Linked DNA regions of Homo sapiens. The protein of the gene in region 4 interacts with the protein of the main gene of each other region in a pairwise test. Each region holds a gene or a part of one and is shown on either strand. Other genes may lie near its edges.

The links. The genes of interacting proteins can lie anywhere in the genome.
Region 1: the proteins of LSM3 (region 4) and CEP95 interact in binary tests that used the Homo sapiens proteins (3 or more experiments, as listed by UniProt).
Region 2: the proteins of LSM3 (region 4) and LSM12 interact in binary tests that used the Homo sapiens proteins (3 or more experiments, as listed by UniProt).
Region 3: the proteins of LSM3 (region 4) and NACC1 interact in binary tests that used the Homo sapiens proteins (3 or more experiments, as listed by UniProt).

The regions. Positions count from the first base shown.
Region 1 is NC_000017.11:64,519,469-64,524,419, reverse strand, and holds part of CEP95 (centrosomal protein of 95 kDa), read right to left. Parts: intron 3,019-4,951; coding exon 2,893-3,018; coding exon of another isoform or gene 2,877-2,892; intron 1,719-2,876; coding exon 1,525-1,718; intron 1-1,524.
Region 2 is NC_000017.11:44,059,729-44,064,679, forward strand, and holds part of LSM12 (protein LSM12), read right to left. Parts: intron 4,207-4,951; coding exon 4,073-4,206; intron 1-4,072. UniProt on the Homo sapiens protein: Nicotinic acid adenine dinucleotide phosphate (NAADP) binding protein. Confers NAADP sensitivity to the two pore channel complex (TPCs) by acting as TPC accessory protein necessary for NAADP-evoked Ca(2+) release.
Region 3 is NC_000019.10:13,123,756-13,128,706, forward strand, and holds part of NACC1 (nucleus accumbens-associated protein 1), read left to right. Parts: intron 1-4,951. UniProt on the Homo sapiens protein: Functions as a transcriptional repressor. Seems to function as a transcriptional corepressor in neuronal cells through recruitment of HDAC3 and HDAC4. Contributes to tumor progression, and tumor cell proliferation and survival.
Region 4 is NC_000003.12:14,184,895-14,189,845, forward strand, and holds part of LSM3 (U6 snRNA-associated Sm-like protein LSm3), read left to right. Parts: intron 1-4,951. UniProt on the Homo sapiens protein: Plays a role in pre-mRNA splicing as component of the U4/U6-U5 tri-snRNP complex that is involved in spliceosome assembly, and as component of the precatalytic spliceosome (spliceosome B complex).

The DNA.
Region 1 (4,951 bases), on a different chromosome or scaffold from region 4:
CAGGAGAATCACTTGCCTGGGAGGTGGAGGTTGCAGTGGGTGCAGACTGCACCACTACACTCCAGCCTGGGCGACACAGCGACACTCTGTCTCAAAAAAAAATAAAACAAACAACCTTTTACTAAATAGCAACTAAAATATAATCATATTTTAATAAAACTTTTAAAATAAAGTATTTCTAGCTCAATGAATTATTTGAAAATAAACACTCCCCTTTAACTGCCACCCAGGTCAAGAAACAGAGTATTACCAACTCAGAAATATCTCTAAAACCCCCACTATGATTCCCCCAAAAGTAAACATTATCTTATGACTCCATTTTAACACCTCTTTTTATCTAATCCCTCTCCTGTTTAGATGCACAGAATGTTGAGAATGTGGTCACCTATTGTTAATAATGCTTATTTCATCTCTGTACTTTTAATGCATTGCTTGAATGTTTAAATAATGAAAATGTATCACTGTTTATATATCTACCCTGTGTACATACCTGCCTGTTGTTTTTCTTATTTTATTTTTTTCTTTTTGAGACAGGGTCTTGCTCTGCTGCCCAGGCTGGAATGCAGTGGTGTGGTCACAGCTCACTGAAGCTCCTGGGCTCAAGTGATCCTCCTGCCTCAGCCTACTAAGTAGCTAAGATCACAGGCATGCACCACCACTCCAGGCTAATTTTCTATTTTTAGCAGAGACAAGGTCTCACTATGTTTCCCAGGGTGGTCTCAAACTCTGGCACTCACATGAGCCTCCCAAAGTGCTGGGATTATGGGTGTGAGCCACCGAACCCAGTCCTGTTCTTTTTAGAAAGATAAGGACAGGATGACTATATAAAAAAGGTTTTTTCTTTTTTTTTTTTGAGATGAAGTCTTACTCTGTCACCCAGGCTGGAGCGCAGTGGCGTGATCTTGGCTCACTGCAATTGAACCAAATAGATCAATATGTTAACAGTGGTTCATGGTGGATAATGGGAATATGCATGGATGGTTATTTTCTTTTCCACTCTGTGTTTTCTAAATTTGAAATTATTAAATTACGGACACAATATGGACTCTGAAGCCAGAATGTCCAAGTTCAAATCCTGACTCTGTAATTGCTGTGTAACCTTGCCCTCTCTACATCAGCTTCCCAACAATAAATAAATATAGTAGCTACTCCAGAGTTGTTATGGGCAGTAAATTATTCAATACCCCTAAAGTATCCAGAACTGCGCCTGGCACAACATAAACATTCACTATGTGTTGGCTCTTATTATTTCCCTTTATATGCATTCGTTTTTCTCCTATCTTCCTAGAACAAGAATGTGCAGGTGTATACAGAGGCAAATTTTAAGGAGTACGATGCTTTGACTAGTGCAATATGCTTGACAATTCTAGCAGACTTCTTTAAATATAGGGGCTTCCTTGACAAAGAATAAAGACTTCACCAATACACATACACACACACGGCCTTCTAATCAATTACCAACACACACACAGACATACATACAAGTGTACTTCTAGCCAACTGAAAGTAAGCTTTTCCACTTACCCCAGAAAATTCCGTATGCTCTCCAGTAGAATTTACGGCTGGGGAGCAGTGACTTGAATGCAAGTATTCTTTTCCTATGGGGCAGGGTGCTCGAGGCTCTGAAGGGTGGTAGGGTGGATGTAAAGGAATAGCTGCTCGGATAGGCTCCCCTAGCTTCCTAGCATTTGGAATCCCACTCACAGAAAGGGTTTCCGCTAGTAAGACAAATTAAAGTGGATATTACGATGCAATTCTAAGAAATAAACCATTTTATATACATACATACATACCTATATAAACATGTTCACATACATTAGAAATATTTTTTAAACTTAAGACAAAGCACATAAAAAAATAATTAAACCAGGGATATAGCCTCAGCACACAGGGATCTAATTAAATTAGGATGTAATTTTTTTTTTTTAATTTTTAAAAAAAGTAGAGATGAGGTCTCGCTATGTTGCCCAGGCTGGTCTCCAACTCCTGGGCTCAAGTGATCCTCCTGCCTCGGCCTCCCAAAGTGCTGGGATTACAAGTGTGAACTACCATGACTGGCCCCGGATGTAATTTTAATGTTATTATCATAAAACTGTTCCCTGAAAGTTACTTTAAAAACTGGAAGCAACTTAAATGGCTTGAAGAATGTTATGTTATGTGAATTATGGTTCGTCCACGTTACAAAACCAGTTAGGCAGTAATATTTTTATGTATTACTACCATATGAAAATTCCAGAGATGATAATAAGAAACAAGAATGATTTTTCCAGGCCGGGTGCGGGAGCTCACGCTTGTAATCTCAGCAATTTGGGAGGCTGAGGCAGGCGGATCACGAGGTCATGAGTTCGAGACCAGCCTGGCCAACATGGTGAAACCCCATCTCTACTAAAAATAAGTTAGCTGGGCGTGGTAGCAAGCGCCTATAATCCCAGCTACTTGGGAGGCTGAGGCAGGAGAATCGCTTGAACCCAGGAGGCGGAGGTTGCAGTGAGCCGAGATCATGCCACTGCACTCCAGCCTGGGCAACAGAGCTAGACTCTGTCTCGAAACAATAAAAAAAGAATGTTTTTCCAGTTACTATACTTTGTTATTTACCAATAATATGAAGACCACCAATAGATGTACTAATGTGTCAGAGACTCTGTCCCATTAAAAAAAAAAGGTAAGTGGTGAGAATTTAGATAATAAAATAGTGGATGCAAAAATATGCAACCAAAGACCATGTTAAGCAGAATTCAGATACCATAATTAATAGCAAACATTTACAAGTAAGATCATGTAAGACCAAAAAGGATCTCATATACAGCAATAAAAGTAAAAAGGCTAATGGCAACAACAATTGCCCCAAGAATGATCATCAGCAGTAAAGAACTAACATCCATTACAACTCACTGTCTTCAACAAAGGATGTCCTACTCTTGGACAAAACACTAGGAGGGTACAACATATCTTCATGTGATTTAGAACTTGGTGAGGCTAAGGCTTTTTTAGACAGCATTTCATTAGGACATTGAGCACCTAGGAAAGAAAATATTAAAGGTAAAATTTTTAACTATCAAAATAGTTTGCTGAACATTATACTAAAAGCCAAGAGTTTTGTACTCAGGAAACAAATATTAAATAATGTTGAACGAAATAATGTTGGTCCAACTGCTCAAAATACCAATTATTATTTTTCTTTTTCAGACAGCATTTCCCTCTTGTCGCCAGGCTGCAGTGCAATGGCGTGATCTCGCTGCACTGCAACCTCCACCTTCCAGGTTCAAGCAATTCTCCTGCCTCAGCCTCCAGAGTAGCTGGGACTACAGGCACCCGCCACCATGCCTGGCTAATTTTTTGTATTGTGACAGGGTTTCACTATGTTGGCCAGGCTGGTCTCGAACTCCTACCTCAGGTGATCCGCCCACCTCAGCCTCCCAAAGTACTGGGATTACAGGCGTGAGCCACTGTGACGGGCCATAATATCAATTATTTTTAATTGCTATCAGAAAGTAAGATGCCATTTTGTAATCCAGAATCATTTATACAATTTAAAAGCAAAGTTTCATACAATGTTTCATTATTTAGCTTTAGAAAAATAGATGCCAGAGTTACGGAAATGCTGGCTGTTTTATGGACATGTCTTGGTATGAATAGACACCAGAGTTAGGGTCTTAGCTAGTACCAGAAACATGGACTCATGGTCCAGGCCAAGCGCAGTGGCTCATACCTGTAATCTCAGTACTTTGGGAGGCCAAGGCAGGCAGATCACTTGAGGTTATTAGTTCAAGACCAGCTTAGCCAATATGGCGAAACCCCATCTCTACTAAAAATACAAAAATCAGCTGGGCATGTGGCACATACTTGTAATCCCAGCCGCTTGAGAGGCTGAGGCAGAGGTTGCAGTGAGCCGAGATTGCGCCACCGCACTCCACCCTGGGTGACAGAGCAAGACCTAGTGTCAAAAAAAAAAAAAAAAAAAGACTATGGTCCATATATTGAAGCTTAAATTAGATGCCTGTGAATGTATATGACAGTTATCTGACACTTTAAATCTCAATATGAAAGGAAGCTGCCATAAGCCCTTTTATCACATCAAACCCAAACACCTTGGCCAGGCATCTCTCTGAATCTTTTTTCCTTTGCCTTAATTGCATTACTCTTAAACACAATTCCCCTCTCTACTTATAATGTTAAAATAAGTAATTCATTTTACAGTAACATCTTTTTTACATAGCACTTGACATCACAGAACCCGTTTCTGCAATCACCATCCCTTCCATTCCCAATCAATCCATCTGATTCTCCTACTTCAAGAAACATTTTTGTAGTATCCACACTTGACTCTGGTCCTTCCGTTTCTGTGCCTATCCCAATGGCAAGCATAGCTTTTTGGTCTACTGGAGGGTGAGTTTGCCAGGAACCAAAAGTAAGGGAGAACATTCCAAGACTTGTGGTCCATATACTGGTTTAGTAATTTATGAAGCCACGGTGGACAGGATGGAGTAGGATGATTGGAGGAGGGCAAGGTTGGAGGCTCAAAATTGGGGCTTGAAAGATATCCGGGTCTACTATGTGCAAGCAATAGGCTGTTGGAAATCTGGCCTGAAGCCTAGAAGAAAAATTGCTACTGCATATACGAACTTATTGGTTCAAACAATGAAAAAAGTGAGTCAACCACCAGTTCAGGAAACTACAATTAAAGAATACCCTGAAAGCGTGACCAGACTATAAGCTGCATCCATAATTCTCTTCCCAGGTTATAAGGAACCGCAAATTACCTAATAACCTTGCATACACTTATTTGCCTTGGACTTATCTGCCCATATGCCTGCGACTTCAGATAAGTGTTCATATTTAATGGGTAGTGGGATATTCTGGAATTTCAAATCCCATGTCCAGTTAGCACTCTATTCTTCTCAATTTTAAACACTCCTACATACCATTTACATTTTTATAGTTGTATGTTGAA
Region 2 (4,951 bases), on a different chromosome or scaffold from region 4:
AAGTATTTCCTGTATAAGCCCTTCTCTTCCATTTCCTGCTAGGTCAGAGTCAACAAATATCCGGTTTTTATCAACAGGTTTAATTAAGCAGATCACTTACTATGTCAGCAAGATGGGCCAATATGTGATGATACCTTTGACTAAAGTTAGAGTAGGCCGGGTGTGGTGGCTCAAGCCTGTAATCCCAGCACTTTGGGAGGCCGAGGCGGGCGGATCACAAGGTCAGGAGATCGAGACCATCCTGGCCAACATGGTGAAACCCCGTCTCTACTAAAAATACAAAAAAATTAGCCGGACATGGTGGCGGGCGCCTGTAGTCCCAGCTACTCGGGAGGCTGAGGCAGGAGAATGGCATGAACCCGGGAGGTGGAGCTTGCAGTGAGCCGAGATGGCGCCACTGCACTCCAGCCTGGGCGACAGAGCAAGACTTCGTCTCAAAAAATAAATAAATAAAATAAAATAAATAGAGTAGGCTAGTGCTTCTCCAGACTGCAAGCAACTGAAACTTCAACAGTTTTCTTCCAGACATCCCAGAGTACATTAGTTCCCTTCCATATGCTTAAATGATCCTCCATCTTAAGAAAAACTCAAGTCCGTGATCTTAAAAATGAGACTAACTTTTCACGTCATTCATGCAACATGTTAATAGCTGCCCGAAATAGCTGTTTTCAGCAGTAGCCCAAAAGGCTCTCTCTAATTCTAAGTCAATCTCCAAAAAGGAATCGCAAAGCATCCTAAAAGGTTGATTTCAAGGGAAAGCCAATATAGCTTACTCATAAACATCTCTGCAAACGGAAGAATGAATAAACGAAATCCAAAGATAACCCTCCAACCTAATTTTAGTTTTTAGTTTCTGACTCCTCTTCCCAGCAAACCTCTTTCAAGATTTGGCAAGCAGGCCACAGAGTAAGAAAAGTAAAGATTTCTGGTGTTCCCCAAGCTATTACTTCCTGCTGCTTTCCTCAAAAACTGGGTAATCAGCTAGTTTACAACAATGCTAGTAAACAAGGAAAACCCTAAAGGCAAAGATAATCCACAAACTAACCAAGAGCTATATCTACCTGAGGTCAAACATAAGAAGAGAACTGCTTCTTAACAGCTCCTGCTTAACAGTCCCATCCACACTACCCCACCCCCTCTAAATGGTGGCACTCATTGGTCACAAGAGCCAACTTTCTAACTTCAGAAAATCACCTCTCTTTCAGATCTTTACTACTCACTAAAGATCTAGTGACAGACTTATCATACCCTATAAACACCAAAAAATAACTCAGAGCCTATTTGGTTCTTTAATACACTAGGAATAATGCTGGGCACAGTGGCTCACGCCTGTAATTCCAGCACTTTGGGAGGCTGAGGCGGGCGGATCACCTGAGGTCGGGAGTTCGAGACCAGCCTGACCAACACGGAGAAACCCCGTCTCTACTAAAAATACAAAATTAGCTGGGTGTGGCTGTGCATGCCTGTAATCCCAGCTACTCAGGAGGCTGAGGCAGGAGAATCACTTGAACCCGGGAGGCGGAGGTTGCGGTGAGCCGAGGTTGCACCATTGCACTCCAGCCTGGGCAACAAGAGCGAAACTCCATCTCAAAAAAAAAAAAAAAAAACACCAAGGAATAAATTATTTAACAAGTCTTAAAATTTCATGAGCTTATAGAAGACACTCAAAGAGCTCCTATACTCTGGTAGAAGGTATATTACTAAGCCAAGGTTTCAAAAACCTATAAGCTTCAAAGAATGGGACATCCCATACAAGACAACACCCATATGAACTCAATAGCCTTCCAAATCTGTCCCTGGCCATCACTAAAAAATGTGTGGCATTTCCCTAGAATCTGACAAGATAGGAACTCCAGATCTGAGGTAACGACATTCACTAGCCTCAGCATCAGTTACCCTCTATTATTTTAGTTGCCTAAGTGTTTCCTTGCTTTGCTGAACTGTACAGAACACACCACATTCCCAAGAGAGGCAAAGTAATACACATTATTGCAAGATTCCTCTAGAGGGAAAAACTTCCACCACATTAATTCAAGAGACTTAATGAAAAGCACCTGCTACTAAAATTGGAGGCATCTTATTCATCCAACAAATATTTATTAAATACTCTGTGCAAGGCTCTGTATATTCAATAGTAAATAAAATAGGTATGGTCCCCATCCCTGCAGAATAAAGTTTAGTGAGACAGACACTAGACAAGTAAACAACTATGGCCAGGAGCGGTGGCTCACGCCTGTAATCCCAGCACTTTGGGAGGCCGAGGCGGGCGGATCACAAAGTCAGGAGATCGAGACCGTCCTGGCTAACACAGTGAAACCCCGTCTCTACTAAAAATACAAAAAAGTTAGCCGGGCGTGGTGTCGGGCGCCTGTAGTCCCAGCTACTAGGAAGGCTGAGGCAGGAGAATGGCATGAACCCGGGAGGCGGAGCTTGCAGTGAGCTGAGATGGCGCCACTGCACTCCAGCCTGGGCGACAAAGCGAGACTCCGTCTCAAAAAAAAAAAAAAAAAAAAAAGCTATGAATAGGGTAACCTAATCTATACCTGTTGTCCCTGTGTAAAATAAAAGCATTCCCCTTTACTCTCAAAAATGTCCCAGGTTGGACTACAAATGATATGGTCACCTTAACTGTGAAGGACAAGGTACTATGAGAGAGAATAATGCAGGCAAATTACTTCAGCCTGGGTGATCAGAGAAGACTTCTTGGAAGACGTGCCATTTAACTGAGTGCTGATGGGTGGTAAGGCTCCAGTCATTCTGGAAGGAAAAATGTTCCAAGTACAGGGGACAGCACAGGCTATGACAGGGCTTGAGGCATTATTATGATCAACTTCAATTTTGACTAAATAAACGGAATTGTCAAAAAAGTGACTTAGGGCCGGGCATGGTGGCTGACACCTGTAATCCCAGCACTTTGGGAGGCTGAGGCAGGCAGATCACTTGAGGTCAGAAGTTCAAGATCAGCCTGGCCAGCATGGTGAAACCCCATCTCTACTAATAATACAAAAATTGAGCCAGGAGCAGTGGCTCACACCTATAATCTTACCACTTTGGGAGGCCGAGGCAAGCAGACTGCCTGAGCTCAGGAGTTCAAGACCAGCCTGGGCAACAGAATGAAACCCCGTCTCTACTAAAATAAAACAAATTAGCCGGGTGTGACAGTGTGTGCCTGTCTCCAAAAAAAAAAAAAATTTGGCCAGGCGTCGTGGCACACACCTGTAGTCCCAACTACTCCAGAGGCTGAGGCACGAGAATCACTTAACCTGGGAGGCGGAGGTTACAGTGAGCCGAGATCGCGTCACTGCACTCCAGCCTGGGCGACACAGAGAGACTCTGTCTCAAAAAAAACGCCGGGCGCAGTGGCTCCAATAAAAAGAAAGACTTGGGCAGGCATGGTGACGCATGCATGTAATCCCAGCTACTCAGAAGGCCGAGGCAGGAGGGTCACTTGAGCCCAGGCGTTCAAGTTCAACCTGGGCAACAAAGCAAGACCCTGTCTCACACATACACACACAAAAGTGACTTGGGGGTTCCCAGAGATCAACTTTTATGTGCAAGATTAAAATATGCTAAGCATGTAACTGTTAGAACTCAAAATTCAAACATAAAGACAAAAAAGAACCTTTAAGACAGTGGCTTTCAAACTTTTCTAAGTCATGAAACCCTCCGAGAATCTGAAAAACACTTTAGATCTTCAAGCAGAAAATGCATATATTCACGTATGCACACATCCACATATACACAATTTGAAGACATTCATAGGTAACGCCACCACCCAAACCCCAGCAGCACTATTAGTTCATCATGAACTCCAAGATTTAAAAAGTCCTCTTTCATAAAGGCAGAAGCAAGCTCTCAACTTATTTGGGAGTTAAGCTACTTCTTAAGATCTACTGATAACATCCAGGAATAAAGAGAAAAACTAAACCTACATTTTTTAAAAAGATATCAGAACAAACAATTTTAAGTCAATTTTAAAAAATAAAAAATAGACAACAATGTATCACTAAGACTCAATGAGACTCATCTTTCCCACCATTTTAGAGAGCCAGATCTGCCCTTGAGTCCTTACCTTACTAACATTGAGTGAAGCTAGGGGAGGAGGGGTTTCTGTTCGGTCATTAATTATTTCCACTTCTGAAACATACTGTAAGTTTATGAGCAAGATGTCTGCATGGTTGGGCTTTCCACTGGAAGAGGGACATTCTGGTGAGAAAAAAAAAAGTTAAGGAAAAATAGGACAAGCAGAGGCACTGACACATCCCAAAAGGGGCATAGAAAACACGATTCACACAAGGCTTGTAAAAGGCAGGCCAGGAGCATGAGGGCCTTATAAGAATCACGGTTCTCCTCAGGAAATCTCTGCCTGTCACCTTCCTCCTGCCCAAATCCTTGGAAGCTTCCAAAGGAGTTCTGTCACTTTCTCTCTACTGGCTTTATGGAGAGGCATAATGCAGATTTAATGCGTTTGTCTTGAACCTATGAGCCAGACAAAAGAGCTAGACCTTTCTGTTCTTCGTATAATACTCTCTGTGTCTGCACAGTATTCTTTTTACTCTTTCAGATGTGAGCTTTCCCATTTTGCAGAGGAGAAAACTACACACTGGAAAGGAAATTCACCCAAGGTGACCCAGCCAGTTAATCCATTCATTCATTCACAAACTCATTCTCCAACCATTTAAGAGCCTACTGTATGTCAAGTAAAAGTTGAGTAATTCAGCCAGGCTCACGTGATGGCTCACGCCTGTAATCTCAACACTTTGGGAGGCTGAGGCGGGCAGATTACTTGAGGTCAGGAGTTCAAGACCAGCCTGGCCAAAGTGGCAAAACCCCGTCACTACCAAAAAAAAAAAAATTAGCCGGGTGTGGTGGCACATGCCTGTAATCCCAGCTACTCTGGAGCCTGAGGCAGGAGAATCACTTGAACACGGGAGGCGGAGGTTGCAGTGAG
Region 3 (4,951 bases), on a different chromosome or scaffold from region 4:
CCCACCTGTGAAATGGGTCTAGTCACAGCTGCCTCACATTTTTGCCTGATTCGGGAGCCAGACGGCCTGGGTATAAACCTGTGCCTGCCATTCACCAGCTACATGTTCCCCACCTCTGGCTTCACCTCTCTGGGCCTCATTCCCATCCATGAAATGGCAGGCAGGCTCATTTCTTCCTCAGAAACTGTAAAGAAGAGTAAGTTAAATGAGCCTGTCTGAGCCCTGGCCAGGTATGGGCCCAGTCAGTGAGGCTTGAGTAGGGGACACTGTTACTAATCCTATTCCACCATGGATTTAACAATAGTCATTCAGGGAAAGAGATAACGAATTAAATCTGTGGGTGTATAAGAAAAAAAATACAGGCCAGGTGCAGTGGCTCACGCCTGTAATCCCAGCTCTTTGGGAGGCTGAGGTGGGCGGATCACTTGAGGCCAGGAGTTTTGAGACCAGCCTGGCCAACATGGAGAAACCCAGTCTCTACTAAAAATACAAAAATTAGCCAGGCATGGTGGTGTGTGCCTGTAATCCTAGCTACTCAGGAGGCGGAGGCACGAGAATTGCTTGAACCCAGGAGGCGGAGGTTGCAGTTAGCCGAAATCACGCCACTGTACTCCAGCCTGGGCGACAGAGGAAGACTGTCTCAACAAAAAAGAAAAAAAAATACTGATGCAAGATGAGGTCTTGCTGTATTGCCCAGGCTGGTCTCAAACTCCTGGCTTCAAGCGTCTTCCTGCCTCAGCCTCCCGAAGTTCTGGGATTACAGGTAGGAGTCACCGCCCCCCACTGAACAGTTTGTTCTTCACTAACTGTTTTCCTGGACTGCCTTCACATTCAGCCCCTACAGAGGGGTCTTTCTGGTTCTGGGTCAGGCAGGCAACCTGAGTAGCTGCCAGGATCCAGCCACATCCTGCTGAGCTGCATGAAGGACTGTGGGGCTCTCTGGGGCCTTTGTTCCTTGTTACACTTGGAGTTGCTGGTCTCCCTTAACTGGCTTGTAGGTCTTAGCCCATCTGGGCTGCTGTAATAAAATACCTTAGACTGGAAGCCAGGCACATTGCTCATGCCTCTAACCTCAGCATTTAGGAGGCTGAGATGGGAGGATTGCTTGAGCCCAGGAGTTCGAGACCAGCCTGGGCAACATAGTGAGACCTCATCTTTACAAAAAAATTTAATTTTAATTTGTTTTTCACCCGTGACACAGCCCTCAGGAGGTCCTGAGAACATATGTCTCTCGTCTTTGCAAAAAATTGTTTTAATTAGCCGGGCGTGGTGGCACACATCCCTAGTCCCAGCTACTCAGGAGGCTGAGGTGAGAGGATAACTTGAGCCCAGGAGTTTGACGCTATAGTGATCCAAGATTGCACCACTACGCTTCAGCCTGGGTGACAGAGCAAGACCCTGTCTCAAAAAAACAAAACAGACTGGGCCATTGATAAACAACAGAGATGAGCTGCTCATAGTTGTAGAGGGTGGGAAGTCCCATATCACGGTGCTAGCAGATTCCGTGTCTAGTGAGGGCCCATCTCTCATAGATAGCACCTTTTAGGTATCTGCACAGGGTGGCAAGGACAAACAAGCTCCCCCTCTTTTATACGGGCACAGTTCGTATTCATGAGGACAGAGCCCTCCTGACTGAATCAACTCCCGAAGGCCCCACTTTTTTTTTTTTTTTTTTTTTTGGTGAGACGGAGATTTACTCTTGTTGCCCAGGCTGGAGTGCAGTGGTGCGATCTTGACTCACCGCATCCTCCGCCTCCCAGGTTCAAGCGATTCTCCTGCCTCAGCCTCCCAAGTAGCTGGGATTACAGGCATGTGTCAGCATGCCAGGCTAATTTTGTATTTTTAGTAGAGACGGGGTTTCACTGTGTTGCCCAGGCTGATCTCGAACTCCTGATCTCAGGTAATCCGCCTGTCTCTGCCTCCCAAAGTGCTGGGATTACAGGCGTGAGCCACTGCACCCAGCCCTTTTTAAATTTTTGATCAACAACTTCTTTTTTATTTTGAGATGGAGTCTTGCTCTGTTGCCCAGCCTAGAGTGCAGTGGCGTGATCTTGGCTCGCTGCAACTTCCACCTCCTAGGTTCAAGCAATTCTGCCTCAGCCTACCTAATAGCTGGGATTACAGGCGTGCACCACTGCGCCCAGCTAATTTTTGTATTTTTAGTAGAGATGGGGTTTCACCATATTGGCCAGGCTAGTCTCCAACTCCTGACCTCAGGTGATCCGCCCACCTCGGCCTCCCAAAGTGCTGAGATTACAGGCGTGAACCACCATACCTGGCTGAAAGGCCTAACTTTTTTTTTTTTTTTAGACGGAGTCTTGCTCTGTCACCAGGCTGGAGTGCATTGGCCCGATCTCGGCTCACCGCAACCTTCGCCTCCTGAGTTCAAGCGATTCTCCTGCCTCAGCCTCCCGAGTAGCTGGGATTACAGGCACGTACCACTGTGCCTGGCTAATTTTTTGTATTTTTAGTAGAGATGGGGTTTCACCATGTTAGCCAGGATGGTCTCTATCTCCTGACCTCGTGACCTCGTGATCCGCCCTCCTCAGCCTCCCAAAGTGCTGGGGTTACAGGCGTGAGTCACCGTGCCCAGCCAGCCCCACTTCTTAATACCACTACATTGGAGATAGGCTTTAGCATGTGAATTTTGGGAAGAGGCAAACATTCAGACCATAGCATCTGTCGACGGCCATGTCACAGCTTCCCTGGAAAGACATCAGGAAAGGACTGTGCCTTTGACAGTCTCTCACAGGCCCATGCTGGCTGGGGAATTCCTCAGCTCTCTTCCCTAAGAGCTGACAGTTACTACTCCCAGGAATCATCCTGCCAGCCCCCTTCCTGCAGATGGCAGGATCCACCGGCAGTGTGAGCAATTCGTCAGGTAACACTGCGGTCTCAATAGGCCCCTGACTGCTGGCTACCCACCTTGGCAGCTGTCAAAGGAGGTCGTCTGTCTGCCCAGCCACAGATAATGCTTCTGAGCCCTATTCCTGTTTGAGCCACGTTAATGTGGAACAAAACAGGGAGTTAGGTTAGGAGGAATGGAAGTAATTCTTTGTTCATTTTTTCCACGAAGGACTGTGAGCACCCACTGTGTACCTGGCCAGGTCCTAGGGGTAGAGGACACAACAGGGATCTACACAGGCAAACTCCCTGCCCCAGGGAAACTGACATGAAGCCCCAAAAAATGCCCAGTTTGGCAGGGGTGGTGGCTCGCACCTGTAGTCCGAGCACTTTGGGAGGCCAAGGCAGGAGGACCACTTGAGCCCAGGAGTTTGAGACCAGCCTGGGCAACATTAGGGAGACCTCGTCTCTATTACTAAAAAATGCACAAATAAATAATTTTTTTTTAGAAAAAGAAAAATGGCCAGCTTGCTAAATAAATCATAGGAACTCCCAAGAAGGATAAGTCAAGCAGGGAGAATCAAGCCAGGGAGTTAGTGTCGGGAAGGGCTTTGTTGGTCAGACGCAGTGGCTCATGCCTATAATCGCAGGGTTTTGTGAGGCTGTGGCAGGAGGAACACTCAGCTGGGAGTTGGAGACCAGCCCAGGCAATATAGTGAGATCACGTCTCTACCAAAAAAAAAAAAAAAAAAAAGCATACATATACATATACTTTTTTTTTTTTTTTTTTTTTTTTTTTTTCGGTTAACTGGATGGGCCGGGTGCCGTGGCTCACGCCTGTAATCCCAGCACTTTGGGAGGTGGGCGGATCACTTGAGGTCAGGAGTTCAAGACCAGCCTGGCCAACATGGTGAAACCCCATCTCTACTAAAAATAGAAAAATTAGCCAGGCATGGTGGTGGTTACCTTTAATCCCAGCTACTCAGGAGGCTGAGACAGGAGAATCGCTTGAACGATTCTTGCAGTGAGCCGAGATCCCACCACTGCACTCCAGCCTGGGCGACAGAGCGAGACTCTGCCTCAAAAAAAAAAAGAAAAAAAAAAATTAGCTGGATGTAGCTCCTGTGGTCCCAGCTATTTGGGAAGCTGAGGTGGGAGGATTGCTTGAGCCCAGGAGTTTGAGGCTGAAGTGAGCTATGATGGTGCCACTGTACTCCAGCCTGGGTGACAGAGCAAGGCCCTGTCTCCAAAAGCAAAAGAGTAGAGAAAGGGCTTTATGTGACCAGGGAGAGTATGAAGAGCTATGGCTGTCCCATTCCCATTCTAGTAGGTCCGAGAGCAAGCAGGGCCAGACTGCCAGGGGCCCCAATAAAGCATTGTAGGGGCCCAGGCAGTGTCACTTGGGGCCAAGGTAGTACAAAGTGGTTTTGAAGGAGTTGAAGATGAATCCAAGGATCTGAATGAGGAGGGCCAGAGCTGGTGAAGCTACGGCATTCACAGGTTTTGGGAAGGACTGGAGCCAGGTCCTGAAATTGTTGAGTGGAGGTGTCTGGGGTGTGTGCGAGTCTGGCATTCACAGGGAAGTCCGGGCCAAAGACTCCAGTGGGGGAGGCATCAGTGAATAGATGGTGCTTCAGGCCTGTCTTAGTCAGCTCAAGCTGCCACACAACAAAATATCACAGACTGGGTGGCTTAAACAACAGACATTTATATTTCAGAGTGCTGGGGGCTGGCAGTCTAGATGAGAGTGCCAGCGTGGTCAGGTTCTGGTGAGGGCTCTCTTCATGGCTTGCAGACAGCTGCCTTCTTAATACCACCGTTATGACCTCAATTAACCTTAATTAGCTCCCAAAGGTTTTATCTCCAGATACAGGCACATTGGGGCTCAGAGTTTCAATCTGTGAATTTGGAGGGACATACTTTGTCCATAGCAGAGCCCTGAGACTGAGCCCAGTCCCCTGGAGGTGAAAACCCTTTCTGGAAGGGCCACACTCCCCATCCACTACTGCCCTTCCTAGATCTCAGCTCCAGTGTCACCCCTTCTGGGCAAGGTCAGGCACCCCAGTGTGTAGCACATTGATCTGTGTGACCAAGGATGAATGGCCCT
Region 4 (4,951 bases):
AAAATACAAAAAATTAGCTGGGTGTGGTGGCATATATCTATAATCCCAGCTACTTGGGAGGCTGAGGCAGGAGAACTGCTTGAATCTTGGAGGCGGAGGTTGCAGTGAGCTGAGATTGTGCCATTGCCCTCCAGCCTTGTCAACAAGAGTGAAACGCTGTCTCAAAAAAAAAAAGGCTGGGTGCAGTGGCTCATGCCTGCAATCCCACCACTTTGGGAGGCCAAAGCGGGTGGATCACCTGAGGTCAGGAGTTCGAGACCACCCTGGCCAACATGGCAAAACCCTGTCTCTACTAAAAATACAAAATATTAGCCGGCCGTGGCGGCAGGCACTGGCAATCCCAGCTACTCGGGAGGCTGAGGCAGGAGAATCACTTGAACCTGGGAGGTAGAGGTTGCGGTAAGCTGAGATCGTGCTACTGTACTCCAGCCTGGGGGACAGAGTAAGACTCTGTCTCAAAACAAAACAAAACAAAACAAAAAAAAACCTATCACGTGTTACTGTAAGTAACATTTTTATGAACAATAACTATTTTCTAAAACAAAATTTTAATGAGGAATGTCTTTGTTTTACATTTTTGCAAATCTCTTTAATGCCCCGCTTAATCGATAACAGCTAGAAGATTCTCATATCTTTTTTCTGCGTTAAATCTATCATGAGTTGTTGTTGTAATTGAAGCAAATCTGACCACACAGATAGGTAGTTGGAAAGGAAGGAGTTTGTTTTGTGAATGTTCTACCTTTGATACTACACCCAAACTGAACAAGTGGTAGTCAGTCAAAGATTATTTGCCATCTGGAATCTGAAACGGTAACAGTAAACTTTTCGTACTCTTGTTAGGTGAAAATTCATTAATCTGCCTTGCACCTCAAATGGATCTCTTACTCATGCATGATTTGGTTACATCAGGCACTGGTTCTTTAGAAAATAGTAGTTCACTGGGCTATGCAGATTCATTTTATTTCTTCAGTGTTTAAAAAAAATCACATTTATTAGTTATCACCAGTGATCTTGTCAGAAAGGTCTTTTTTTTTTTTTAAAGACAGTCTGACTGTGTCACCCAGGCTGGAGTGCAATGTCAGTCTCAGCTCACTGCAGCCTCCGCCTCCCAGGTTCAAGCAATTCTCGTGCCTCAGCCTCCAAAGTAGCTGGGATTACAGGCATGTGCCACCACGCCCAGCTAATTTTTGTGTTTTTAGTAAAGACAGGTTTCACCATGTTGGCCAGGCTGGTCTCGAACTCCTGGCCTCCCAAAGTGCTGGAATTACAGGTGGGAGCCACTATGCCAGGCCGTAGCAGAAAGAAAGGTCTTTAAGATTTGGAAAGACAGTTTCTGACCCTGCCAGGGCATAGTGGTTAAAATGTGGGCTCAGAGTACAAGACTACATGGATTCAAATTTTGACTCCCTTGCTTACCACCTTTTTAATTGAGCCAGCTCACCTAACCTGTCTGTGGATATGTTTCCTTGTCTGTAAAATGGGAGTAATGATAGGACCCACTTCATACAACTGTGGAGGATTCATTGAGGGCTACATGAAAAGCCTTCAGATAGTGACAGGCACGTTGTCACTGTTAAACTGTTAGCCTTCACTGGATTTTGTAGTTCTGCTTTATCCTGGCTTTCCTCCTCTCTCTGACCACACCTGACTCCTTTGCTAGTGTTCTTTCTCCTTCTGAGTGTAAACATTTAGCATTTTTTTCTTTTTTTAAAATTTTTACTTATTTATTTATGTATTTTTGCTGGCTTATTTCTCCAAGAAAGAATAGCATTTTTTAAAATCTGCATTTTTTCCCCTTTAGGAATTTCATTTATTAACTATTGTTTAGTGGTTATTGTTTTCTTAACATGGACACAATCATAAGTACTAAGATGCACTTTTTCTTAAATTTTAGCATCTTAAAAATCTGATTGCATCTTACAGGTGATGTGATAAAAAAAGAATTGTGTCATAGTTTAATTGGCAAAATTTATCCTTTTTCAGCTCAACTAAGCTTACAAATGATACCTTAAATGTGATAAAATATGGAATATGTGGCTTTAATATTCTGCTTTATTCATGTAACATCATTAACATAAGAATTTTACCATGAGAGTAGACTCTTCATAAGCATTTTAATGCTCTTGTCTTGAATTCTGCTTGTGACAGAAATGACTCTTCAACTGTGGTGTCTATTACAGAGAAGGGAACACTGCCACTTACTCCATGTTTGCAGTGAACTAACAGCAGGGTCCACCTGTGTCATCCCTAGTAGTCTGCTCCAAGTGCGGTTCCTCCTGACACTGTTTGAAGGTGCTATGTGTCTGTGCACATGTGCATTTCTCTGGGTGGGGTGTCTGTAACAGAGTCTCAGTAGTTACTGACCTCCATTAAGATTAATTGCTGCCTTGAAAGGCTACTGGGGCTGGTTAGCTCCTGAACGCTGCGTGCTGCGTGCATGTGGCCTCTCTTGCGCCTAGAGTTGCAGCTGAGAACAGTAAGCAAAGTCTATTTAGTTAATGAGTTCTTTTTCACATTGCCATGATGTATTGGGTAAAACATTTAAAATTGAATCTTTGGATGACTGAGAATACTTTAGTGTGTAAATGTGTATTAACTATAGACATAGAAAGCAAAGACAGTGATATTATAGAGAGTGTCTGCATCTGGTTCAGTGCCATGGAGAACAACTACTTCACTCTCCTGTGCGCTCTTGTTACTCCTCTCCAAGATGGGAAACCAGACTAAATGGTTTCTTACCTTGGCCCATTTTACATTTCGCTCTCTCTCTCGTCTATTGAAATAACTAATGAACATCAACGTTTTACCACCAAAACAGTATGGGGGACCCATAAACCATCAGGTTGTTGGGTTTTTTTCCCCCTATAACTTACATAATTGACTTCTAAATAATTAATTTGGCTGCTGACTTATAAATGGGAAGGTGGAAAGCAGTCAGTCTTACTCTTCTGATTCTTGGTCCTCCATAATTGGAGTTTCCATTTTACAGATTGTGAACAGTCTGTGTTATTTGACCCAGACTACTTTTTCGGCTGTCCATCATGTGTACTACCTTCCTTCACCAAACACCTCGTAGTTTGGCTCACCAGACAGTTTCTCTTGGGGACGTTGTGCCCTTTTGTAACTAAGCCCTCTGCTCCCTCTGCTTGCCCGAAGGCCTTCTACAGCATCAGATGGCTCTTCTAGACCTTTCTGTAGATTAGCACTGTAATAATAGAACTGTCTGCAGCAGTGAAAATTTCTATCTATGCTGTCATTACAGGAGCTATGAGCCACATGTGGCTATTTGGCACTTCAAATGGATGCTGGTGTGATTAAGGAACTGCACATTTAATTTTATTTAATTTTAATTTAATGAGCCACCTGTGACTAGTGGCACTCATATTAGAGCAGCTCTAGACCTGCTCCCTCATACATAACTAACTCTTTATGGTCCATGCTGAGACCATATGGTCCATATCACCGTATAGTACTTAACACATATTTCTTTTCTTACTCATTTTAAATTGCTTCCATTTTAATTTAACTTTTTGAATAGATACTAGACTCACACAGTCTTAAAATTACAAAATGCAGAAAGGAACACAGTGCAGTAAAATGTCTTCCACTCCAGCCTCTGTTCATCATCTTTACACCCCACCCCCAGACATAAGCACTATTACTGGTTTCTTGAGAATCTTCTCGTGTCTTTATGCATATGCTAATGAGTGTTAGTTATTCTCCCTTCCCCTGTTTTTTTATCACAGTGCTCTTTCCCTTTCATACATAGCTTCCTTGTGCTTTCGTTTTTAGCTTTATGGTACTTCACTGTGTAGATGTACCATAATTTAACTGTTTTCCTGTTGATGGACAGATAGCCATTTCCAATATTTTGCTAGTAAAACCTATTCTGCTGTAAATAATTTTATCTTTATCTTTTTTTTTAATTATACTTTAAGTTCTGGATTACATGTGCATAACGTGCAGTTTTGTTACAAAGGTATACACGTGCCCTGGTGGTTTGCTGCACCCATCAACCCGTCACCTACATTATTTCTCCTAATGTTATCCCTCCCCTAGCCTCCCAGCCCCCGACAGGCCCTGGTGTGTGATGTTCCCCTCCCTGTGCCCATGTGTTCTCATTGTTCAACTCTCACTTATGAGTGAGAACATGGGGTGTTTGGTTTTCTGATCTTGTGATATTTTGCTGAGAATGATGGTTTCCAGCTTCATCCATGTCCCTGCAAAGGACATGAACTCCTCCTTTTTTATAGCTGCACAGTATTCCATGGTGTATATGTGCCACATTGTCTTAATCCAGTCTATCATTGATGCACATTTGGGTTGGTTCCAAGTCTTTGCTATTGTGAATAGTGCCGCAATAAACATACATATGTATGTGTCTTTATAGTAGCATGATTTATAATCCTTTGGGTATATGCCCAGTAATGGGATTCCTGGGTCAAATAGTATTTCCAGTTCTAGATCCTTGAGGAATCACCACACTGTCTTCCACAATGGTTGAAATAATTTTCACTCCCACCAACAGTGTAAAAGCATTTCAGTTTTTCCACAACCTCTCCAGCATCTGTTGTTTCCTGGCTTTTTAATGATCGCCATTCTAACTGGCATGAGATGGTATCTCATTGTGGCTTTGATTTGCATTTCTCTAATGACAGTGATGATGAGCTTTTTTTCATATGTCTTTTGGCTGCATAAATGTCTTCTTTTGAGAAGTGTCTCTTCATATCCTTTGCCCATTTTTTGATGGGGTTGTTTTTTTTCTTGTAGATGTGTTTAAGTCCTTTGTAGATTCTGGATATTAGCCTTTTGTCAGATGGATGGATTGTAAAAATTTTCTCCCATTCTGTAGGTTGCCTGTTCACTCATGATAGTTTCTTTTGCTGTGCAGAAGATCTTTAGTTTAATTAGATCCCATTTGTCAATTTTGGCTTTTGTTGCCATTGCTTTT